4 separate regions of the Homo sapiens genome follow, and all the other regions are linked to region 3. The links come from fine-mapping of genetic effects on gene expression. A gene starts in region 3. Each other region holds a variant in brackets. All regions are shown on one strand. Distances are between the middles of the regions.

Region 1 (6,362 bases), 620 kb after region 3:
TATCAGAATTTGGTTCCATGCCCTCAGCCCATCCACCACCTTTAGTTGGAGGGCACTGGGGATTTTGTCTTTTTGCTTACCCCCAGGGAAAATTCCAGCCTTCGTTTGCCAGGGATTTAAGTTGCTTCATTTCAGTACTCAAGTGATTCAGCATCAAGTCACATTTCTCTTGTCAGGCACTGGTAGAATGTCCCTGCACTAGTAACTGGCCTTAGATTTTAAATCCAAGCCAAAGCTACCTTGTGTTCTTGGTGGGACACTAGATACCTATCTCGGTCCCATTGTTGTGGGATTAGGAGGATTAGAGAGAGACTTTGGGGTGTATGTAGGAGGGTATTTTTATTACTGAGTGTATTTAGATTTAGTAGATTTAATGTTTAAAGATTGGGTTTAGAATAAAGATAGTATTTGATTTTTATGTATATTTTATAAAAGGGGGTGGGTTAGTTTGAAGTAAGTTTATAGTGGCGTGAAAGTAGGGATCTAGAAGCAGGATAAAGATAGTTAATTAAATTGTAATAGGTTTATAATTTATGATTGTATATGATTGTTTTTAACTAATTTAGATGTTTATTATTTAGGTTTTGTTTTAAAGAGTTTTGTATTGGTTTATTTTATAATTTTTATTATGGTGTTTAATAGTTGTAGTTTTAGGTTTGTTTAGTTTTTTTATGATTTTTGTTGTATTTTTAGAGAAAATAGAATATTTGAAGTTATTAGTTATAGAGAATAAGAATTTATAAAAATATACTTATTGTTGTCTTTGAAATAAATTAATTTAATATAGAAAAATTTATTTTATTTTATTATTATTTTTTAAATTTCCTGCCTCACCATTGCATGAGAACCTAATCAGCCCTCTGGGATGAAGTCTCTGGCTTTTTTACTCCAGTATCCTGGAATCCTGTTTCTGAACTCTAGTCTTATGCTTAAGGTCTTGGCCACCATTGAAAATGTTCCTGGTTCAGCTTCCCTGTGCTTGCTTCTGACCTGGGTCTCCTCTGGATTTGCTGTCAGCTGCTTATTTGCTTGTCACAGCAGCCCTGAATCCTTCCACCTCCAGCAGTCACCGAGCCTTCTGGATACTCTGATTTATTCTTCAAACTGGACTGACTCCCCATACCTTCTGCTGAACAGATTTCCAGGAGCATGTGTACCACCCCAGTGTGCTGCTCTGTTTGAGGTCCTATTTCTTGACCTTGGCCGAGTCCTGCCATAAGGTTATGCAGGAAAAGGCTGAGCTTTAATATTAGGGGAGCATCCATAAATGAAAGAGAGGAAATCATCTGCTATATTTAGGAGCAAATAAAAATTTTAAGAGTGGGAAGGTCTTATTGAAATGTTTTCTAGTCCGTGAATCCTCTAGTCTTTTTTGGCTTCATTTGGTGTATTATAGGATGAAACGTTATTTTTATGTCAAATGTTTACTTTCAAATGAAAATGTTAAACACTTCTGTGTTTTGCCATATCTTTCTTTGATGTCGACTGAATAGATGGCTGTCCATGCCTTGCAATTGAAGATGGTTTTATTTTGTAAATTATTTTTCTCTCTGTTTTTGCCTTTTCAGGTATTACACAATGGCCTCGTTATGGAGATGGAGCATCCAACTGTGGGGAAGATTTCCGTCCCAGGTCTGAAAAGTTTTGGTATTTTCTCTAGCACCTTTCTTTATTAATTGTCCCATATGCTGTTTACTACAGGTAGCTTATGAGCTCCCAAACAACTTTCCAAGACATTATCCAAATTTATAACATTGGGTAAAAGGGGAATCCTAGGACTGCACTCACAAAAATGTATGCTGAGACTATGGCATTGTGTCTTAGCTCTAAGGAGTGTCGGATTGCCACGATGACAAAAAAATGCTCGCATTTCTTAATTCCATTTTGTGTAATCACGTGCTCACAAAAGTACATCATGTAATTATCAACAGGTTGATAGTAATAGGTATGGCCAATAACAAGAAATAGAGTGTCGTTCATATGAGAATTGGAAAGAAAGCCAGGCAAGATGTAACTGGAGTCCGAGGAAGGCTACTGACTGCTCAGGCTCGGGCATTTTCTTTCAGAACCGTGGTTTAAGGTGTGGATCTTGGCTTTACAGAACAAGAAACTAAATGTTTTCAGTACACCCAGAATAGATTGAATTTTTGGAAGTTGATTCATACTAAACCAGCTCACCAGAGACTGCTGCCTAAGCCGAAATGCCAGCTTCTTTACTTGCAGAGGGAGCTCTTATTTCAGCAGCCAGTAGCCTCATGCCTACTCTCAAAGCATCCTCTTAAGTGGTGCATTTAAACTGCAGTGAGAGCTTGTGACCAATACATTTCCCTCCCACAGCCTCCATTTCTCTGATAATCACAATATTACCTTTATCAGATATGTTTTTTCTCTATTCCAGGCATCGCTGGAAAATCCACATTCCAGCAATGGAGTTCCAAATTATTTGTTCATTGTGTCCATATTTTCTAGACTAAACACAAACCAAGCACTTATTTTTTTTTCTTTTCTTCTGATGGAGGTCAGTGAAATTAGCTAGGATATAATTTTTGTTATTGTTTTTTCCTAAAACCGTTTCCTGGCCATCTTACTTGGAATTTAGGTATCTGCCAAACTCTTCAGTCACCTCAGTCAGGTGGCATAGAGTATTTACTTCTACAGGCATCTGATCTCATTTATTGAAGGACTATTCTTGTTAATTTTATCCTAAATAGAATCTAAGATTTGGGATCAGCTTTATAATAATCTCCCATAACCTACCAGATAGTGACCACTCGCGCATGAAAAGAGTAAGA[A/G]GAGGGAAGTATGATGAATAAAGAAAGTTGAAGAGAAAATTCTAATGTTCAAGAACATAAGGAATATTATGCATGGATTAAGGAAGGTAACTAAGAGAGCAGGTATAAGCAAATGAAAAACTGAGATCACATGTTCTAGGGAAATGTTATATGGTATAGAAAAGTGGTAGAAAAAAATGTTGACAAAAGCTAAGAAGTTCATCAGTTCATCCACTCATCTGTATTACTGAGTATATACTATGTGCCAGGTACTGCTTTGGGTCCTAAAAATACAAAAATAAACCAGACAACTTCACCCCTGGCCACCTGGAACTGATACTTAATAGAAAGTTGAATGATATAACAACCAACAAATGTTTCTATAACTGTAAGTCATAAGTGCAAAGAAAGAAAGAAGAATGTGCTGTCATAGAGAATGATGGGGTCAGATGGGGCCTTCTGTAGTTTAGGTGATCGAAGAAAGTCTCTCTGAGAGGCAGACTTATAACATGACACTGAGGGGCAAAACGAATAGAGGATGAGCATTTCCAGCAGAGGGAACAGCATGGGAGAAAACCCCGAGGTGATGAAGTGTGGGGTGTGTTCTAAGCCAGGATGAAAGGTGGGGAAGTGGGGCAGGAAATGAGACTGGAGAGGTAGGGAGAGCCTGGGGGCCCTGTTAAAGTTGTGTTTTCTCTCGTTTTAAGTAGGGGAATAAAATCACACAATTTACAGCTTAAAGCCGGCGGTCAGGTTAGGAAGTGATACAGGAGTTTAGGTGATAGTGTCTTAAATTAGGGTCATGGGAATAGAAATAAAAAGAAGGGGTGGTTAAAATAAAAAATGTAATCATAAGTCTTTGAGTATTAGATCTTTAGAAAACATCTGGTCTAGTAGTTTTTGATATTTATACAGTAAAACTGATTTTCCACATGAAGAATCCGTAGCTAACACAGATGGAAGCAGAGTTAGGCTGATTGATAGGTTAGCACTCCTATTGTTTAGCTTTCCTCCTCTGCCCACCATGCTGTGGTCTTCCACACATCTCTCCTTGGAAGTCTGGGCCCTGAAGAACCAGTGATCACTTAACCCCACAAGTTTACAGATGAGGTCATACAGGGGTTGGTATCCCCAACACATTAGAGAAAGGGTAAGCATTTGAAAGTCAATATGATTGTCAGCATGATAATGAGGAAAAAAGTAAGTCAGTGGCCAACCAAGAATGAACTCATTGGAGGTAACACTCTTTCAGTCAGGCGTAATTTGCTGACTTTCACTGTAAGTGAACGAAAGCTAAATCTCAGCAGGAGGGAAGTATTATTTACAGATTACTAGAAGGGAAGAATATTTCTTTTGCCCACTTTAATTTATCAATGTATCAGGTAGCCATTGTCACAAGAATGCTGTGTAAGAAATAACCTCAAGCTCTTAATGGTTTTCAAACATAAGCATTTGTTTATCCCATGCATGTGGATTAGCTGGGATGTTTCATATAGTTTGGGCTCAGCTGGGTAGCTTTGCTTCTAGTTCCAGGTCTGGCCAGGTTTAGCTCCTGCCTGTGCTTGGAGTCATTTCTAATCCGTGTGTCTCTCCTACTCTTCTGACGGTCATGGCTGCAGAACACTGGGGCAAGCAGAAACCACAGTGCTATGTAAGATGTTGGTGTACAGCTGGCAAACCCTTATGCCTGCATCTTATTAGTCCAAGCAAATTTTATTTTTTAAATTAATTTATTTTGAGACAGAGTCTCACTCTGTCGCCCAGGCTGAAGTGCAGTGACGCAATCTCAGCTCACTGCAACCTCCACCTCCCAGGTTTAAGCAATTCCCCTGCCTCAGCCTCCTGAGTAGCTGGGATTACAGGGACGTACCACCACACCCAACTAATTTCTGTATATTTAGTAGAGACGGGATTTCACCATGTTGGCCAGGCTGGTCTCAAACTCCTGACCTCGGGTGATCCACCTGCCTCGGCCTCCCAAAGTGCTGGGATTACAGATGTCAGCCACTGTGCCCGGGCAAAAGCAAGTTTTAGGCTGTATCCAAAAGGGTGGGGAAATACATGTGACCCTTTCTGAGAGAAATTTCAAAGTTATATGGTGAGGAGCATGGGCACAGGGAGAAGTAAATAATTGGAGTAAAAAATTCACTTGACTACAACAGAGTTCTCAGATCCACAGCAATTTCTTTCTCCTTTTTTTGTTTTAATCTCCCTTTGGAAAATTCTATTTTTGTTTAGTGTTTATAGGGCTTAGTCATCTTTTTGGTATGTCTATCTTGTTATCTTGTATTCTTTCTATAGAATTATCAATATGGGAATTCCCAGATTTGAGATGAAATGCATGAGTCTAGTTAATGTTTGGAATTAGAATCTGAGTGTGTTTTGAGTGCAGCACATCTGAATTCCTCATGAGAGGGGAATGACAATTCTGCTTACAGATGTCAGATAAAAAGAGGCTATTGTATCTCCTAATTCAGTATATCCCAATAAGAGGCCACATAAACAGGACAAGAGTTGTTAAATGCAAAGGGAATGTATCAGTAATATAATTTACAATTTGTCTGTGGATTCTACCTGTCCTTGATTTTATTTACCTATGATAGTTCTGCCTTTCTTTGTTGGGGATGTTCCCATTGGAGAACTCATAAATGCTATAGACATAACTCAGTTTCCTCAGAATGTCTCAATATGGTAAGTCTGCCAAAACAAGAAACACAAGCTACAGTTAAAGGTGACTTTTGCTACACTGTTTTCTGGTTAACTAGTGGAGACACATTTTGAATTTGCTAGACATAGTTCTATAGATTTACACATACATATCCACATCTTCACGTTTACAGTAACAATCCTTATTAGGATTGTTATTAGCATTATTAGCATTACCAGCTTATTACCATTCCAAATTATTCTACTTATTTATATTTCCTGCCTTATTTATGAACTTCTTGCAACCAGTACTGAATTTTCTGTATGTCACACTAATTTGCCTGAAGCACTTTCTTAGTCATTACCAGAAACTTGTCTCTTAAAAACAGCAGTAAATCATGTGATATTTATAGAGCCTTCTTTAGAGTTGTATAAATCCACATAGCATTCCTTCAGATGAGAGCTTATTGATTAATACATTAAAGATACTGGTCAACTCGTGTTTAATATACTTTGGACAAGGATAGGAAATTATTTACCTCTTAAAAATCCCTTTTGGCTACTTAAAGAAAATAATTATTTCAGCCATTTAGTACATTGTTTCAATCTTTGTAATCATTACCATTATTAAAATACAATAAGTAGTATCATCTAAACTATTTCCTTTATTATATCTGTTGCAAATACTCCCTTTCATATGAGTCTCTATCATCTTCAAACTATAATAAAGAGTTAGGAAAGAAATGTAATTTGTGTTTACAGATGATCTGGTTAAAACATGCAAACTAGTTAAGCCCATGAATTATCTCTAAGTGTGAGTTTTAGTTATGCTAATGCTATTGTTCTTTATTTAGTATATTATTCATTAAAGTACTCCCTCATCTGAACTTTAAAGCCTATTATACAGTTAAAAGTGAAGAGAGACAAAGAAAAATGAACTATCAA
Region 2 (6,362 bases), 800 kb after region 3:
ATTCAAAATTTGTGAGAAGTTAGAATCATTGCCTGAGCTCGTATGTTTGTAGTTAATTTATTTAGTCTTTTTATGTCTTTAGATACCTTTATTTGTCTTTACTCATACATGAGAGTTTAGGTATAAAATTCTAGTTTAATGATTATTTTTCCTTGGCATTTAAAAAGATATAATTTCATTTTCTTCTGGAATCTATTGTTGCTAATGAATCTCTAGTGGTAGTCAAATTGTTCCTTGGAAAGTAATCTCTCTTTTCTTTATATTATTTATTTTTTCCTAAAATTTCCCAAAGATATGCCTAGCTGTTGGTTTAATTAAATTAATTATTTTTATTTTTTTTCCCACCCATTTCTCCTTAATTTTATTTAACTTCCTCAGTACTCAGAGTACATTTTCCCTATAAAAACCTATGGATTTCTTCAATTATGAAAAATATTCAAATGTTTCTTTTTCAACATCCACTCCATTTCTTTTACAAGAACTTCTATTAGACATATGTTGGAACTTCTCAATCTATTTAGCTTATCTCTTCACTAGTTTCAGTTTTTAAAACATCTTTTCCTTTTTTTGCTTTATTTTTGGCAAATTCCTGAATACTATCTTTCACTTAATTAACTTTCACTTTTATACCATCATATCTGGAGGTGATTTTTCTATTGTTTCTTTTTATTTCGATAAATGTATTTTTCCATTTATAATATTTTTAAATGATTATTCTATATTTGCAATTGCTTTGTTCTTTCAGTTTTTGTTTCACATTTTTAATGTAAAGTATCCCAGCATTTGTTTCTTTGAGGACAGTAAAACTCTAATTTTTTTTTTTTTTGAGACGGAGTCTTGCTCCATCTCCCAGGCTGGAGTGCAGTGGCGTGATCTCGGCTCACTACAACCTCTGCCTCCTAGGTTCAAGCAATTCTCCTGCCTCAGCCTCCTGAATAGCTGGGACTACAGGCACGCACCACCATGACCAGCTAATTTTTGTATTTTCAGTAGAGACTGGGATTTCACCATGTTGGCCAGGATGGTCTTGATCTCTTGACCTTGTGCTCCGCCCACCTTGGCCTCCCAAAGTGCTGGGATTACAGGCATGAGCCACCCTGCCCGGCAAAACTCTACTTTTTCCTTTTTCTTTTTCTTTCTTTCTTCCTATCTAAAATTGTACTTTAAGTTCTAGGGTACATGTGCACAATGTGCAAGTTTGTTACATAGGTATACATGTGCCATGTTGGTTTTCTGCACCCATCAACTTGTCATTTACGTTAGGTATTTCTCTTAATGCTATCCTTCCCCCAGCCCGCCACCCCCTGACAGGCCCCGGTGTGTGATGTTACCCACCCTGTTCTCATTGTTCAATTCCCACCTATGAGTGAGAACATGCGGTGTTTGGTTTTCTGTCCTTGTGATAGTTTGCTGAGAATGATGGTTTCCAGCTTCATCCATGTCTCTGCAAGGGACATGAACTCATTCTTTTTTATGGCTCCATAGTATTCCATGGTGTATATGTGCCACATTTTCTTAATCCAGTCTATCATTGATAGGCACTTGGGTTGGTTCCAAGTCTTTGCTGTTGTGAATAATGCCGCAATAAACACACGTGTGCATGTGTCTTTATAGAAGCATGATTTATAACCCTTTGGGTATATACCCAGTAATGGGATCGCTGGGTCAAATGGTATTTCTAGTTCTAGATCCTTGAGGAATCGCCTCACTGTCTTCCACAATGGTAGAACTAATTTACACTCCCACCAACAGTGTAAAAGTGTCACTATTTCTCCACACCCTTTCCAGCATCTGTTTCCTGACTTTTTAATGATTGCCATTCTAACTGGTGTGAGATGGTATCTCACTGTGGTTCTGATTTGCATTTCTCTCATGACCAGTGATGATGAGCATTTTTTCATGTGTCTCTTGGCTGCATAAATGTCTTCTTTTGAGAACTGTCTGTTCATATCCTTCACCCACTTTTTGATGAGGTTGTTTGTTTTTTCTTGTAAATTTGTTTAAGTTCTTTGTAGATTCTGGATATTAGCCCTTTGTCAGATGGGTAGATTGCAAAAATTTTCTCCCATTCTGTAGGTTGCCTATTCACTCTGATGGTAGTTTCTTTTGCTGTGCAGAAGCTCTTTAGTTTAATTAGATCCCATTTGTCAATTTTGGCTTTTGTTGCCATTGCTTTTGGTGTTTTAGTCATGAAGTCCTTGCCCATGCCTATGTCCTGAATGGTATTGCCTAGGTTTTCTTCTAGTGTTTTTATGGTTTTAGGTCTAACATTTAAGTCTTTAATCCATCTTGAATTAATTTTTGTATAAGGTGTAAAGAAGGGTACCAGTTTCAGCTTTCTACATATGGCTAGCCAGTTTTCCCAGCACCATTTATTAAATAGGGAATCCTTTCCCCATTTCTTGTTTTTGTCAGGTTTGTCAAAGAACAGACAGTTGTAGATGAGTGGTGTTATTTCTGAGGCCTCTGTTCTGTTCCATTGGTCTGTATATCTGTTTTGATACCAGTACCATGCTGTTTTGGTTACTGTAGCCTTATAGTATTGTTTGAAGTTAAGTAGCGTGATGCCTCCAGCTTTGTTGTTTTTGCTTAGGATTGTCTTGGCTATGCAGGCTCTTTTTTGGTTCTATATGAACTTTAAAGTAGTTTTTTCCAATTCTGTGAAGAAAGTCATTGGTAGCTTGATGGGGATGGCATTGAATCTATAAATTACCTTGGGCAGTATGGCCATTTCCATGATATTGATTCTTCCTATCCATGAGCATGGAGTGTTCTTCCATTTGTTTGTGTCCTCTTTTATTTTGTTGAGCAGTGGTTTGTAGTTCTCCTTGAAGAGGTCCTTCACATCCCTTGTAAGTTGGATTCCTAGATATTTTATTCTCTTTGAAGCAATTGTGAATGGGAGCTCACTCATGATTTGGCTCTC[T/C]GTTTGTCTGTTATTGGTGTATAGGAATGCCTGTGATTTTTGCACATTGATTTTGTATCCTGAGACTTTGCTGAAGTTGCTTATCAGCTTAAGGAGATTTTGGGCTGAGATGATGGAGTTTTCTAAATATACAATCATGTCACTTGCAAACAGGGACGATTTGACTTCCTCTTTTCCTAAATGAATGCACTTTATTTCTTTCTCTTGCCTGATTACCCAGGCCAGAACTTCCAACACTCTGTTGAATAGGAGTGGTGAGAGAGGGCATCCCTGTCTTGTGCCAGTTTTCAAAGGGAATGCTTCCAGTTTTTGGCCATTCAGTATGATACTGGCTGTGGGTTTGTCATAAATAGCTCTTATTGTTTTGAGATACATTCCATCCATACCTACTTTATTGAGAGTTTTTAGCATGAAGGGCAGTTGAATTTTGTCAAAGGCCTTTTCTGCATCTATTAAGATAATCATGTGGTTATTATCATTGGTTCTGTTTATATGATGGATTACATTTATTGATTTACATATGTTGAACCAGCCTTGCATCCCAGGGATAAAACTGACTTGATTGTGGTGGATAAGCTTTTTGATGTGCTGCTGGATTCAGTTTGCCAGTATTTTATTGAGGATTTTCACATCAATGTTCATCAGAGATATTGGTCTAAAATTCTCTTTTTTTGTTGTATCTCTGCCCGGCTTTGGTATCAGGATGATGCTGGCCTCATAAAATGAGTTAGGAAGGATTCCCTCTTTTTCTATTGATTGGAATAGTTTCAGAAGGAATGGTACCATCTCCTCTTTGTAGTTTTGCTAGAATTCGGCTGTAAATCTGTCTGGTCCTGGACTTTTTTTGGTTGATAGGCTATTAATTATTGCCTCAATTTCACAGCCTGTTATTGGTCTATTCAGAGATTCAACTTCTTCCTGGTTTAGTCTTGGGAGGGTGTACATGTCCAGGAATTTATCCATTTCTTCTAGATTTTCTAGTTTATTTGCATAGAGGTCTTTATAGTATTCTCTGATGGTGGTTTGTATTTCTGTGGGATCAGTGGTGATATCTGCTTTATCATTTTTTATTGCATCTATTTGATTCTTCTCTCTTTTATTCCTTATTAGTCTTGCTAGCAGTCTATCAATTTTGTTGATCTTTTCAAAAAACCAGCTCCTGGATTCATTGATTTTTTGAAGGGTTTTTTTGTGTCTCTATCTCCTTCAGTTCTGTTCTGATCTTAGTTGTTTCTTGCCTTCTGCTAGCTTTTGAATGTGTTTGCTCTTGCTTCTCTAGTTCTTTTCATTGTAATGTTAGGATGTCAATTTTAGATCTTTCCTGCTTTCTCTTGTGGACATTTAGTGCTATAAATTTCCCTCTACACGCTGCTTTAAATGTGTCTCAGAGATTCTGGTACATTGTGTCTTTGTTCTCACTGGTTTCAAAGAACATCTTTATTTCTGCCTTCATTTCGTTATTTACCCAGTAGTCATTCAGGAGCAGGTTGTTCAGTTTCCATGTAGTTGTGTCGTTTTGAGTGAGTTTCTTAATCCTGAGTTCTAATTTGATTGCTCTGTGGCCTGAGAGACAGTTTGTTGTGATTTTTGTTCTTTTACATTTGCTGAGGAGTGCTTTACTTCCAACTATGTGGTCAATTTTGGAATAAGTGCAGTGCGGTGCTGAGACGAATGTATGTTCTATTGATTTTGGTTGGAGAGTTCTGTAGTTGTCTATTAGGTCCGCTTGGTGCAGAGCTGAGTTCAAGTCCTGGATATCTTTGTTAACCTTCTGTCTCATTGATCCGTCTAATACTGACAGTGGAGTGTTAAAGTCTCCCATTATTATTGTGTGGGAGTCTAAGTCTCTTTGTAGGTCTCTAAGGACTTGCTTTATGAATCTGGGTGCTCCTATATTGGGTGTGTATATATTTAGGACAGTTAGCTCTTCTTGTTGCATTGATCCCTTTACCATTATGTAATGGCCTTCTTTGTCTCTTTTGATCTTTGTTGGTTTCAAGTCTGCTTTATCAGAGACTAGGTTTGCAACCTCTGCTTTTTTTTTTTTTTTTGCTTTCCATTTGCTTGGTAGATCTTCCTCCCTCCCTTTATTTTGAGCCTATGTGTGTCTCTGCACATGAGATGGGTCTCCTCAATACAGCACACTGATGGGTTTTGACTCTTTATCAAATTTGCCAGTCTGCGTCTTTTAATTGGGGCATTTAGCACATTTACATTTAAAGTTAATATTGTTATGTGTGAATTTGATCCTGTCATTATGATGTTCGCTGGTTATTTTGCCCATTAATTGATGCAGTTTCTTCCTAGCATCGATGGTCTTTACAATTTGGCATGTTTTTACAGTGGCTGGTACCAATTTTTCCTTTCCATGTTTAGTGCTTCCTTCAGGAGCTCTTGTAAGGCAGGCCTGGTGGTGGCAACAATCTCTCAGCGTTTGCTTGTCTGTAAAGGATTTTATTTCTCCTTCACTTAGGAAGCCTAGTTTCGCTGGATATGAAATTCTGGGTTGAAAATTCTTTTCTTTAAGATATTGAATATTGGTCCCCACCCTCTTCTGGCTTGTAGGGTTTCTGCCGAGAGATCTGCTGTTAGTCTGATGGGCTTCCCTTTGTGGGTAACTCGACCTTTCTCTCTGGCTGCCCTTAACATTTTTTCCTTCATTTCAACCTTGGTGAATCTGACAGTTATGTGTCTTGGGGTTGCTCTTCTCAAGGAATATCTTTGTGGCATTCTCTGTATTTCCTGAATTTGAATGTTGGCCTGCCTTGCTAGGTTGGGGAAGTTCTCCTGGATAATATCCTGAAGAGTGTTTTCCAACTTGGTTCCATTCTTCCCATCACTTTCAGGTATACCAATTAAATGTAGATTTGGTCTTTTCACATAATCCCATATTTCTTGGAGGCTTTGTTCATTTCTTTTTACTCTTCTTTGTCTAAACTTGTCTTCTTGCTTTATTTCATTAATTAGATCTTCAGTCACTGATATCCTTTCTTCCACTTGATCAAATCAGCTACTGAAGCTCGTGCATGCATCACAAAGTTCTTATGCCATGGTTTTCAGCTCCATCAGGTCATTTAAGGTCTTCTCTACACTGTTTATTGTAGTTAGCCATTCGTCTAACCTTTTTTCAAGGTTTTTAGCTTCCTTGCGATGGGTTAGAACATGCTCCTTTAGCTCGGAGAAGTTTGTTATTACCGACCTTCCGAAGCCTACTTCTCTCAACTCATCAAAGTCATTCTTCATCCAGCTTTGTTCCATTGCTGGCCAGGAGCTGCGATCCTTTGGAGGAGAAGAGGCACTTTGCTTTTTAGAATTTTCTGCTTTTCTGCTCTGGTTTCTCCCCATCTTTGTGGTTTTATCTACCTTTGGTCTTTGTTGTTGGTGACCTACAGATGGGGTTTTGGATTGGATGTCCTTTTTGTTGATGTTGATGCTA
Region 3 (6,362 bases):
GGCTTTCATGGAGCTTTTATTAATCTAAAAGCCTTCCATTCTTATTTTCTAGTCTCTGTGAAATACCTAATGAACAAATTTCTGTGGGTATGGTTCAAATAGGAGGTGTGACCATTTTGTTTTTACACGTTTCTTTCTGGGAATGTTGAAACAAAAGTTTTACTAGCTCTATCTTCGTATTTTGTAACTTCAAAATGCCTAGAGTCTGTGTTACATGTTAAAACACCTGATTTTGGCCGGGCATGGTGGCTCACGCCTGTAAACTCAGCACTGTGGGAGGCTGAGATGGGTGGATCATTTGAGATCATGAGTTCGAGACCAGCCTGGTCAACATGGTGAAACTAAAAATACTAAAAATACTAAAAATACATGTTCTGGGCTGGGCACGGTGGCTCATGCCTGAAATCCCAGCACTTTGGGAAGCCAAGGTAGGGGATCACTTGAGACCAGGAGTTCAATCGAGACCAGCCTGGCCAACACGGTGAAACCCCATCTCTATTCAAAATACAAAAATGAGCCAGGCGCGTGCCTGTATTCCCAGCTACTCAGGAGGTCGAGGCGGGAGACTCGTATGAACCTGGGAGGCGGACGTTGCAGTGAGCCAAGATTGCGCCACTGCACTCCAGCGTGGGCAACAGAGTGAGACCCTATTTCAAAAACAAAACAAAACAAACAAAAAAAACAAAACATGGTCTCTACTAAAAATACAAAAATTAGCCAGGCATGGTGACATGTGCCTGTAGTCCCAGCTACTCAGGAGCCGAAGGTTGCAGTGAGCCAAGATTGCACCACTGCACTCCAGCTTGGGCAACAGACTCCATCTCAAAAAACAAACAAAAAACCACTTGATTTTTAAAAAATAGTTGGGGTAACAATTCTTCCATATTTTTCTCTCCAGAACTATAGGTATATATCCATAGCATCCCTTAATTTGGAAAACCACTTCTCTACTCCAGGTAGGCCCAGTGGTGTTCAAGGTCACAGAATCCTGTCTCATTATGGTGATGTGTCCATGATTCAAGTTAATTAGGTCTCACTGTGGCCTTGGCCACAGTTAATTGGTTCAATAATACAGAAACATGATCTAAGTATGGCAAATTTGTCTTCTCTTGGATTGATGGAGATGAGAGATGTTCTTTTTGCAATGGAAGTGATTTGAGGCTGCTGGTAGCTATCTTCTTTGGCCTCAAGAGAAACTAACTCCATAATGCTAAGAGGTATAGAGAAATTCAGATAGAACACTTTGATTTAGCAATGCATGGTCTATTCTTGCCTTTTCCAGTTAAATGAGTATAAAGTTATGCTTAAATGGGTTTCTGGGGCTTCAAGTTTTAATGCATTTTAACAGAAGCATTAGATAAAATGAGTATGAACAGAACTCTGTTATTCTCATCCTCATTATTTACGAACAAATACAGAGCTGTCTACAGCTCAAAGGATGGTTTACCTATTTCATTTTCAAAAATAATTTGCAAAACATTTACCTATGAACTCTAAGTGACTACAAAGCATTACTGTAGTAAGTCTACTTCTTTATCATACCACAAAACCACAATAGCTAGAAGACAAAATGTTTTATTTTAAAACATTGAAAAAACATTAAAAGACAAATGTCCATTATGTAACCAGGAATGTTAAATATATGGAAACGGTAAATCTCTAAAATGTGGTAGGTACTTCCAGAGCTAAATGTTGCAAGTTATCCTACTTTTTTCTCTAATATCAACAATACCTGATACGATGAAAAATAACAAAAAGACCTTACTAATTATCCAATCAAAGTCATCATCTTTGGGTAAATTTATATCAACACAACTTAAAGTTTTGTCCAAGATGTTCCTGACACATGAAGCTTCCAGTTGAATTTCAGAAATGTTAACAAAAGTATCTTCCTTTTTTGCCTGTGAATGTTTGAGTATTGCTGTATTGTTGGCTTATATCCACTACAGATACTGGTTCTAGGCCAGCCCAAGGATCTTCAAGCATTGAAGGCTTGAAATAATTTTCCAACTCATTAGACATTCTTTTTTCTCTAACACGCCCTGATCCAAATGGTGTAGATGTCCTTGGAGAACCCTTTAGAAAAAAAATCAGTTAAAAAAACACTTAGTAAAGATAATTGGTACTTCTTCCTTTAGCTAAAGGTTAGCGGGAATCACATTGCTGCTTAAAAGTTGTGACTTGAACCTAAATAATGTTCAATTACAAAGTCCATGCTTCCTTTAATCAAGTGTTCCTATTTTTTAAAAAAAGTACTTAAAGCAATTCGTTATTCTCATTTATTTATAATTCCATGACCACTGTCATCTCAAATACTTTTGTGTCTAATGTAGTAACTTTGCAGTAATTAAATACAAGCAGTGATGAAATCAAGTAATTATATTCAATTTTCCCTCGAAATTTTCACTTTTTTCAGGAGAAAACAATACTATAGTTTTAAAGTTTCTAGAACCTTTCTAGCTCATGAACATTTTCTTTACTCCTTAGCTCCAGGCTCAAAAGGGGTAGGGGGTTGGTGTAGAATACAGCAAGTTGGAAAACCACGTAGTTGCAAGTTGTAAACCACAGAAATCCCAGACATGCTAGAGATACTCTCTCTGTCTTTTGTATTTACTCTCACTAAAGGAATGGAAAACTTCCACTACCACCGATTTTCTTTTCAGGGAAGTTGGAGCAGAAGCCAGTGTAGCTCGAAAGAAAGATAAAAAAAAAAAAAAAAAAAAGAAAAAGAACTATTTCTTGAAACAAACTGGCAAGGCCTTTGGCAAACAGGAGGAAATGGAGAATTAGGAAAATCTGTGTACGGGTGGCAGTGTATTGGTTAAAAGCACGAGGGCTCGAAAACAGAACGTACGGCTCTGCCACTCTTTCGGATAATCTTCCGGAAGTCACTCAACTTCTCTAAGCCTCAGTTCGCTCATCTGCAAAATTGGGCTAACAATAGTACCTCAGAGAGGATTAGACAAAATAATCCACGTAAAGGGAATATTAGTACCGTGCCTGCCATAAAGTAAGAGCTCGGCAAACGCTGGCTATTATTATTACCTGGGGGTGGGTCTGCTGCTGCCCTGGGGAGTAGCCGAATTGCTGCTGGGACCCCGCGGGGGACCTGGAGTAGGAGCCAGGGTAGCCGCCAGGGGACGGAGACCCGAACCGGCCCCCCGGGAAGCTGCCGCCGTGTCGCGGAGAGTGACTGCTCCCGTACGGCCTAGACCGGGGCCCGTACGGCGGCGTGTGGTGCGGACTCCCGTACCCGTCTCGAGGGGAGGGCGGCCGTGGTCCGCCCCCGCCCGGGGTTCCCCGGAAGCTGCTTCCGCTACCCCAACCTCCTCCACCCGGACCAGGGTAAGGAGGAGTTGGGGGCCGAAAATTCTGTCGCTGCATATCAGGAGCCAAAGCCGAAAACCTCGCAGCCGCGTTCTCCCACCGGAACTGTATCAACCGGCCCTCCGCAGAGAACTGCTAGTCCTTTACCAAAACAGTCCTCCGACCGCAGCCACCCTACGGCACATCAGTTCCGGCGTCACAAAGGTTCCGCCAGGGGCGGCGGGATTACCTAAATCACTGACTTGGCGAGAGACTCAGTGGATTTAAGTGAAAAGAGGAAGAAAAGGAGACAGGAAAGGACGGACACCCAAGCCCAGCAACAACCTTTCCAGTCTGAGTGCCCTTGGTCTGACCGACAGACTAGAAGCTGGCCCAGCAGGCGACTAGTGCTCAGCCCCGCCCGGCGGGGGCGGGGTCTGCGGCGTCCGTGGGCGCCCCCCAGTGGCGGCGGGTGGCGCCGCACGGAGTTCGCCGCTTGCACCGGGACCGATGCCATCTGAGACGCACGCGATGCTGGCGACGCTGGCGAGGGTGGCAGCTCTGCGCAGAACCTGCCTCTTCTCCGGCCGGGGCGGCGGGAGGGGGCTGTGGACTGGCCGCCCGCAGTCAGGTACCCTCCGAGATTCGGTCTGGGTGGCTAAAGGGATCCCTGCCCCAGCTTGCCTCCTCGGGCGCCCTGAGGAGAGCAATTAGGGTCTGAAGTCTCTGCTGACCCCTTAGCGGTGGCTTTGCTCGCCTCCCTGCAACCCCGTTCCGTGGGCCTGCGGCCGGCCTGCCCCGCTCTGGCCGCCCAGGGTCGCCTCTGTCCCGTGCGTTGTTGTGACCGAGGGCTCCGTGCGCCGTGGGGTCCCGCTCCTGCGCGTCCCGCGGCTCGCGTTTGGGGCCTCTTTACTCCTGTCCTTTCGTCCGCCAAGTTTAAGTAACTTCGAAAATGCACACCAAGCCACATTTCAGAAAGGACTTTAGCCCGCTGCTTTGAATAACTTGACACTTCATGTACAATAAAAGATGCCCTTGTACAGTTACCTGTTGCAGAATTTTATTTAGAGGATGAAATTTAGCTTTACTACAGTGTTATAGAACTTTCTTTACTCCCTCTGAATTTGGGAATGGTAATCCACTATGAATCTTTTTTTTCCTTTTTTCTTTTTTTCTCTTTTTTTTGAGACGGAGTCTCGCTGTCTCGCCCAGGCTGGACTGCAGTGGCGCGATCTCGGCTCACTGCAACCTCCTCCTCCCGTGTTCAGGAGATTTTCCTGCTTCAGCCTTCCGAGTAGCTGGGATTATAGGCATGCGCCACCACGCCCAACTAATTTTTGTATTTTTAGTAGAGACGGGGTTTCGCCATATTGGCCAGGCTGGTCTCGAATTCCTGACCTCAAGTTATCCTCCCGCCTCGGCCTCCCAAAGTGTTGAGATTACAGACGTAATCTCTATGATTATGCGCGCGGCCCACTATGAATCTTGAAATTAGTTGCAGGATGCAGGATTTTTTTTTTTTTTTTTGAGACAGTCTCGCTCTGTCGCCCAGGCTGGAGTGCAGTGGCGCGATCTTGGTTCACCACAACCTCTGCCTCGCGGGTTCAAGCGATTCTCTTGCCTCAGCTTTCTAGAGTAGCCGAGATTACAGGCATGTGCCACATGCCCGGCTAATTTTTTTGTATTTTTAGTAAAGACGGGTTTCACCATGTTGGCCAGGCTGGTCTCAAATTCCTGGGCTCAAGTGATCCGCCTGCCTCTGCCTCCCGAAGTGCTGGGATTTCATGCGTGAGCCACCGCGCCTGGCGTAGGATACAGAATCTTAAAAGAGCTTTAGGACTCATTAAATCATAGCCTAACGGGTAGCCTGGACCTGTGATTTCCATTCACCCTCTTGTAGCTGCTACTCCTCGCTGTCTCTTTGACATGTTCTGTGACATCCCAAGCTGACGAGTGTGGTATCTTCTCAGCTTCTATCCTCCTTGATGAATGGAGACACACACAGACAGTTTTTTTGTTTGTTTATTCTGTGGAAATTCAATTCACTACATTTCGTTTCTTCTGTAGATACAAGTGATAGACTTAATCAAGGTAGCACGTTGCCATTAAGGCTTAGTGATACAATTAAGGTCGGAGGACTCCAGCCTATCCACTTTATTAAATACAGTAGTTCTGTCCTGGCCAAAAATTCACCTTTCTGGACATTGTCTTTAGTGTTTAACTTAATGCTTGGGAATTGCTCATTTGAATATTTATTGAATAAAATGACCTAGGTGGGACGATTGCTTGAGCCCAGGAGTTGAAGACCAGCCTGGGCAACATCGTGAAGCCCCATTTCTACCAAAAATACAAAAAAAATTAGCCGGGCTTGGTGGCGTGCGCCTGTAGTCCCAGTTGCTTGGGAGGCTGAGGTGGGATGGCTTGAGTCCTAGGAGGTTGAAGCTGCAGTGATCCGCTATTGTGCCACTGCACTCCAGCCTGGGTAACAGAGCGAGACCCTATCATGCCCCCCCACCCCACTGGAAAAAAAAAAGGTTCACATACATCACATAGGTAATTTTCACCTTTTAGATCATCAGCCAGTCTACTCAGGGGAGGGGGCAGAAAAGTGAGAGTGGTGGGGACCAAAATTAACTTTATTATTATTATTATGGACATGGGGTGGTCTCACTCTGTCACCGAGGCTGGAGTGCGGTGGTGAGATCACAGATCACTGCATCCTCGACCTCCTGGGCTCAAGTGATCTTCCCACGTCAGTCTCCCAAGTAGCTGGGAGTACAGGCTCATGCTACCATGCCTGGCTAATTTTTTTATTTCTTTATTTTTTGTAGAGACAGGGTCTTGCTGTGTTTCCCAGAACTCCCCACCTCAAGCATTCCTCTCTCCTGCCTTGGCCTCCCAAAACTCTGCAATTAAATGGTGTGGTGAGCCACCATGCCCAACCAACAAATTAATTTAATAGTAAACAGTTTAACTGATGGACGCCTAATGAGTATATAGATCTTTATTCCATCAACCCATTTATCTGTATAACTTCAATCTAACTAAAGTTCACT
Region 4 (6,362 bases), 450 kb after region 3:
CAATATTTTGCCACTACACTATTATAATTGAGGCACAGGGTCTTGAGTTGAATATTTTTCATTAATAAAAGTCCCATAAACATAATTCATAATTTGGGTATTTGATAATCTTCTATTTGTAGACACTATTTTTACCTGTACTGAAGGTAAGCTTGTGGCCCAAACTTGGAAATGGAGTTCCTTTCTTCGTATGCTGGAGCAGAAGTCCTCCTCATCCTCTGTTAATTGCAGCTTCAAACATCCTCATCATTAGGTTGCTGGTGCAGAGCAAGTGCTCTGGCGTCGATAACTTCAGCTTTCTCTAATGACTTTGCTTCAACTTCCTCATCTATACATTAAGGAAACTCTTCGTAGCTTCCTCATTGGGTGGGCCCTTAACTCCATGGCCGTCACAGAGCACATAGTCAGTATATATTAGCTCTGTATCCAAAAAGTTTAGAAAAGTGGTTTAATAATGTCAATACAGGGCATTTTCTATAATAGTAATGCTGGTATTATTAGTATATCCTAAATATTGTCATTTATTTTCATAAGCAATTTTGGATCAGTTGTGTTTTATGTATAAGTAAACATTTCTTAAAAATTAAATCAGCGTAATAGCAAAAACTGACTGTGAAAATACAGAACACAAAAACTAGCAGCTCAATAATTTGCCTTGCAACACAGTACCCTTAAATAACAACTAGCTGGTATTGGAAGCTAGTTGATTTCATTTTGAAATCAACAAATGAATTGAATGGGGTGGTACATCCGTAAAGGAAAATATACTTTAAAGTATTTAAACTCAAGTAAAGAGCAAAGGTGAGAAAACAGCCTTTGAAATCCTGTCATAAGGCAATATAAAAGTCAGAATCTTCATTGTTAATTTCAAGTGATTGAAGTTTTTTCTTGAGTATAGAGGGAGATAGATTTTTCAATTTTTTTTTTCAATTTTAGAAACTCTTCTTTCCTGTATGGATTGATCTTTCCTTGGCTTTTCTAATGAATACTTTTAGTGTTATACCTTTATCCTAAAGTGATCATTGAAAATCACATATCCTTTCCGTTGGTAGTTTAAATATGTCTTCCCTGGAATTGTATGATGATATTTAGTGTCATTGAGTCAATTATTTTACCTTCACATCCAGACAATTACATTTAAAATGAATTCTTAAACATTCAGAATTGAAAAGAAGGTTTCCACATTAAACCAATGGCTCTTTTGGCATCTACTACATGCCTTAATTTTTACCACATATGCATAAATTGGCAAAGTATCTTATGGGTTATAATAATCCTGATGGCTTGGAATTAATATATTGCCATCATAGAGCAAGTCCTGAGCCCATCTACTCTGAATCTTTGGATAAAGACAAAACTCCATCCTGCCATGCACCTGGTCAGTTGTGCAATGCTGACCAATACACAGCTGCTAACAATAAGGGTATTGTGCTTATGTAACCCAGTTCAGGATCTGATGGTTAGTCTCTCGATACATGCTGAAACACGAGGGAATTTTTACTTGCCAGGATGCCTGCTTCATGGAAAATATTGTGTCTATGTTGAAGCATACACTTACATCTCTCTATATAAGTTGGTGGAGTTGAATTCTACCAGATTACCTTAGCTTTCCAAGTCAGTTCAGGGTTAAGGCTCTCTCAGTCAAGAAAAGGTCATACAGTGTGGCGTCGAATGTAATTTTAGGAATTGTTTTTTGAGCACTTGTTTTATCAAGTTAACAAAAGTCTGTATTATGTTTCTTCTCATTGATGTGGGTGTGTCCTTGTGTGTGTATTATTCGAGAGAGGCTTCCATTTGTTGAGTGATCTTCATGCAAACATCTTGGAGTGCTTTACAAAAGAATTTTAAAAATCAAACCAAACAGGATATGAAACTGTGCTGCCAAACAAGTAAGTCTTTAGGCATGATTTAAATTTAGTTAATGACATAAAGAGCTAAATCTGTGAAAGGAAGAAAGTTCCTTGGATCAGAAAAAAAGCAGAAAACAGATACTCATATTTTGTCTAAGTCTTCATTTGAGTAGCTCCAAAAATGTTCTTTTAGAAGTGAAGTTGGAAAATCCCAGGCTAAGTGAACTCCAAGGAGCAGTGTTTTAGGGGAAAAGACCAGATAATAGTTCCCATGTGCATAGTGATCTACAGATTGCAAAGTGTTTTCCCAGCCATTATCTCATTTGACCATCACAACACTCCATCAAAGTAATTAAGGACAGTGTTACCCCAGTTTACAGATGAATAAACTGATGACAGGAGAAACTAAGGAATTAAATGAGGTGATAGAGCTAGATGGTGATAGAGCTGGGATTGGCATATGGATATTGTTCCAAATCCCATGTTGTATATACAGTAACATAAGGCTCCACTGTGGCGAACTATTTACACTGGATACTTTTCTCCTGCCATTATAGCTGCCTTGGGAGTGATAGTAATGACTCTGACTTCCCAGGGTATCTTAACATTCTGCTTCCTCTCAGGAGGATCTCCTGACATTCTTGTGTAAATGGAAAAGTAGAAAACCAGGATCTTCTAAGGCAAGTGCATTGTAAATGATAATTTCATGCCTTAATCTTTTCAAAACATTTAAACTGGCTTTGATGATTCACCTTTAAACTCACCCTTCAATAGTTCTCAGAATCCTCCTTGAGAAGATGAAATTGGAATGATCCCATCAGCTCTGGCAGTTGTAGGTGGATTCTAATGGTAAGGGACTGTAGTGGGGAAAATGGGGAATTCTTAATGAGCTCCCTTTCTATTGCTGACTTGAACCAAATGTAGTTATCCTTGAACGTTTGAGGATTCTATAAGCATTGTGGTTTCAGACAGTGAGTCATAACCTTGTGCCAGAGGGGTGGGTGATATAGTATCTGGATTGATTCATGAGACATATAGTGGCTTTTTAAGGTATATTCTGAAATGAGTCTTCCAGCAGTCAGGTTTCGTTGTTGTCGTCTTTGTTTTGCCTTCTTCTCTGAAAACACAATTATTTTCTCATTCAAGGTTTGGACTTTAAAAGCTTACTTTTTCCTTGAGACACCTTTAGCTTGAGACAAATCTAGGAAGAACATCGTTTTGTGATTCTGTAGATCTTTTGACAAAGTGGATCCTCCTGCTTCAGCCTCCCTGACAATTACTTTATTTTTTGTAGAGGCGAGATCTTGATATGTTTCCCTGGCTGGTGTTGAACTCTTAGGCTCAACCCATCTTACCCCACTTGGCCTCCTAAAGTGTTGGGATTTCAGGCGTGAGCCACCACACATGCCTCTAAACTTTTTTGTTTTGTTTTTTGAGA[C/T]GGGATCTCACTCTGGCACCCCGGCTAGAGTGTATTGGTGTGATTATATCTCACTGTGGTCCCGACCTCCCAGGTTCTGGTGATTCTCTTACCTCAGCCTCTCAAGTACCTGGGATTACAGGTGTGCACCACCACACCTGGCTGATTTTTGTATTTTTTGTAGAGATGAGGGTTTTGTCACGTTGCCCAGGCTGGTCTTGAACTCCTGGGCTCAAGCAATCCATCTGTCTTGGCCTCCAATGTGCTAGGGTTACAGGTGAGAGCCACTGTGCCTGGCCAACTTCTAAATTTCAATGACTTATTATTTTTTTTCTTTTACCTGCCAGACCTTGGTAATCATTTCTTCTTTTAAATTTTTTTAATATAATTGTCCAGGTGGTTCAAGATCCCCTAAAAGATGCTGTATCATTGCTTAAGGTAGAATGTCTTGCACAGAATAGGAGCTCAGTCGATGTCTGCTAATTATTAGTTTTTCCTGTTCTATATAGAATTATATAGTTTTAAGTGTTAGGCAATGTTTTTAACTTAGAACTTAAAATGGAAATCACTATGATGATTAAAATATTCTATATCCTCATTGCCCAATATGGCAGCCACTAGCCGTTTTGCTTGAGCACTTGAAGTGTGGCTTCTGTGACTGAGGAACTGGATTTAAATTTTATTTAACTGTAATTAATTTAAATGTATAAAGCCACATGTAAGTAGTGGCTGCCAGACTGGATGATGCATGCTCTAAGAATGTGCAGAATGGCAATCTAAATGTGAACTGTGAGTTAGAGAAGTCCTCCTGGAGGAAGAGGAACTTGGGTCTTGCAGAAGGGAAGCAGAGAGAAGGGGTGAGGTGTTTTAAGTAAGGAATATAGTAAAAGCTCTGAGGTGATTGACAGTGTTAAATTTGGGATTAGTTTCAAGACTGGAAGTAGAGCAGAGTTTGAGCACTAGGGACAGTAGTAATAATAACAGCAGACACTTACCAATTTACAGGCCACATACTAGTTTAATCTTCACAACAATACTCTAACTCGAAGAATATAAGTAATTTGCTCAAAGGTACAAGTTGATATTGGACCTGAGATTGGAACTCATATCTGTCTAGCTCAAAAACCTAAGCTTTTAACCACAATACTGTGCTGCCTTATGATCTGCCATGTTTAGAAAGACTTACAAGTAGGAAATAGCCTAAATGTCTTTTAACTGGTAAATGAGTAAACAAATAATGGAATACATCCAATCAATGGAATACCACTTACAAATTTGAAAAGTAACAGAACTACAGATATATGTAACAACATGGATGAATCACAAATGTATTATGCTAAGTGAAAGAAGCCAGAGGTGAAGAGCTATATACTGTATATTCCATTTGTATGACGTTCTAGAAATGGCAAAATTATAGAGACAGAAAACAGGCTCAGGAGTTGCCAGGAGCTGGCAGTGAAAGGCAGGGATTAACTATAAAGAGACACAACAGATTTTTTGGGGGACATGATGAAAATAGTGTGTATCTTGATGGTAGTAGTGGTTACATGACTATACATTTGTCAAAACTCAGAGAACTGTGAACAAAAAGGGGTGAATTTTACTGTATATAAATTGCACATCAGTAAAGTTGAATGATAAACAAAGACAGACTTACAAGTAGATCCAAGTTTATTTTCTCAATATGTTAAGTTATTGTAACCAGGCTATTTTGAAAAATAAATAATTCTAAAATTCTTGTGTCTAAACATGTCTTCATATTTATGATAGATATATAAATATATACAACACATATAATAGAAAAATGATGTAGAAATTAAAAATTCATAAAAGTGATGTGTGTGTGTACCTAAAGCAGTTAAATTTGCATTTAACATGAGTTGACACATTAAATGTTTATTCAATTTAGTGTTTATTTGTCATTGCCATGGCAAAGCAGTTGGAGGTGAAAGAGGAAGTGATGTTTTAATTAACATGATTGGTAAGATGTCATATGACTTATCCCATTTTCCTTTTATTGTGTTTAAATGAAAATAGCTACCATATGAAATCATCAATCCTTTTAAAGCTTGCTTTAAAATTTTTCAATACATAATGGAATTTTCATTTTCACTCATATTTCACTTATATAAATCACTTGTATGAGACAACAGTAAAATGGATATCTTTTAAACAGATATATTTATATCCTCCTTTTATATTTCTTTTTCTTCTTTCTTTCTGTTTTTTTTTTTTTTTTCCAGACAGAGTCTCACTCTGCCGCCTAAACTGGAGTGCAGTGGTGCAATCACAGCTCATGGCAACCTCCGCCTCCCAGGCTCAGGCGATTCTCCTGCCTCAGCCTTCTGAGTAGCTGGAATTACAGGCGTGTGCCACCATGCCCGGCTAATTTTTGTATTTTTAGTAGAGACAGGGTTTCACCAATTGGCCAGGCTGGTCTCAAACTCCTGACCTCAAGTGATCTGCCCGCCTCGGCCTCCCAAAGTGCTGAGATTACAGGTGTGAGTCACTGCGCCCAGCCCTCCTTTTGTATTTCTAAGAAAATTCTCTTTTTTTTTTTTTAATTATACTTTTAAGTTTTAGGGTACATGTGCACATTGTGCAGGTTAGTTACATATGTATACATGTGCCATGCTGGTGCGCTGCATGCGAAATAAACTTCCTGAAGGTCTTATATCACTCTGTGTTCACTAGTTTTGTTATGTATTCATAAAACTATAGATTAGTATAATTTTTAGGCAGAGAGGACCTCAAAGTATTAACTCTCCTGGTCCATTATCTACAGGAGGTAAGGGGTTATCTGTGTTTTATAATTGAAGAGGTGACATACAGAATTCTAACTTTCCCATGGTCACATTTCTAACGATTAGAGTTTTAGGTTTCAAGAGTGATTAATCTTAATAAAGAACTATAAACAATATTAATTAATGATTATGATTTAAGCATTTCATTTGATTCTTTGCTTTAAGCATTTCTCTAGGTTCAAGGTTTAATACCATCATATTTAATAATACTGCAATAATCCTGGTTAATCTTAAAATAGTGTCACTAGGGAACATGTAAATTACAGGATATGTTATTCTTTGAATGAATTT

Direction of the effects. Alleles are on the strand shown, and positions count from the first base shown. SD is a standard deviation of normalised expression in the study named. Not every link is listed here.
With allele G in place of A in region 1, the expression in adrenal gland of the gene that starts at base 3,822 in region 3 is lower (moderate effect, 0.43 SD a copy in GTEx).
With allele C in place of T in region 4, the expression in skeletal muscle of the gene that starts at base 3,822 in region 3 is higher (moderate effect, 0.44 SD a copy in GTEx).

The links. PIP is the estimated chance that this variant, and not a neighbour inherited with it, causes the effect. A credible set is the group of variants that fine-mapping cannot tell apart.
Region 1: its variant is the best candidate, but not a certain one, in a credible set for the expression of SUGCT in adrenal gland (GTEx, PIP 0.79).
Region 2: its variant is the best candidate, but not a certain one, in a credible set for the expression of SUGCT in whole blood (INTERVAL, PIP 0.66).
Region 4: its variant is the best candidate, but not a certain one, in a credible set for the expression of SUGCT in skeletal muscle (GTEx, PIP 0.72).

The regions. Positions count from the first base shown.
Region 1 is chr7:40,747,866-40,754,227 of GRCh38, forward strand. SUGCT (succinyl-CoA:glutarate-CoA transferase) reads left to right here. Exons shown (of 14, transcript NM_001193313.2): 13 at 1,569-1,632. Among named protein-coding and RNA genes, the nearest start is that of SUGCT-AS1, 200 kb to the left of the region's middle. The variant A/G (reference allele first, on the strand shown) is at 2,793.
Region 2 is chr7:40,927,792-40,934,153 of GRCh38, forward strand. It overlaps a transcript of SUGCT not described here. Among named protein-coding and RNA genes, the nearest start is that of LINC01450, 49 kb to the right of the region's middle. The variant T/C (reference allele first, on the strand shown) is at 2,927.
Region 3 is chr7:40,131,184-40,137,545 of GRCh38, forward strand. SUGCT (succinyl-CoA:glutarate-CoA transferase) reads left to right here and starts at 3,822. Exons shown (of 14, transcript NM_001193313.2): 1 at 3,822-3,937. The coding sequence starts at 3,838. It overlaps MPLKIP (M-phase specific PLK1 interacting protein), which reads right to left and starts at 3,439. Exons shown (of 2, transcript NM_138701.4): 1 at 3,046-3,439; 2 at 1-2,076. The coding sequence starts at 3,384. The coding sequence ends at 1,876. RefSeq lists silencers at 3,165-3,234, 3,695-3,894 and an enhancer at 3,445-3,514.
Region 4 is chr7:40,582,414-40,588,775 of GRCh38, forward strand. All of the region lies in intron 12 of SUGCT (succinyl-CoA:glutarate-CoA transferase), which reads left to right. All of the region lies in intron 3 of LOC105375244 (a long non-coding RNA gene), which reads right to left. Among named protein-coding and RNA genes, the nearest start is that of SUGCT-AS1, 39 kb to the left of the region's middle. The variant C/T (reference allele first, on the strand shown) is at 3,289.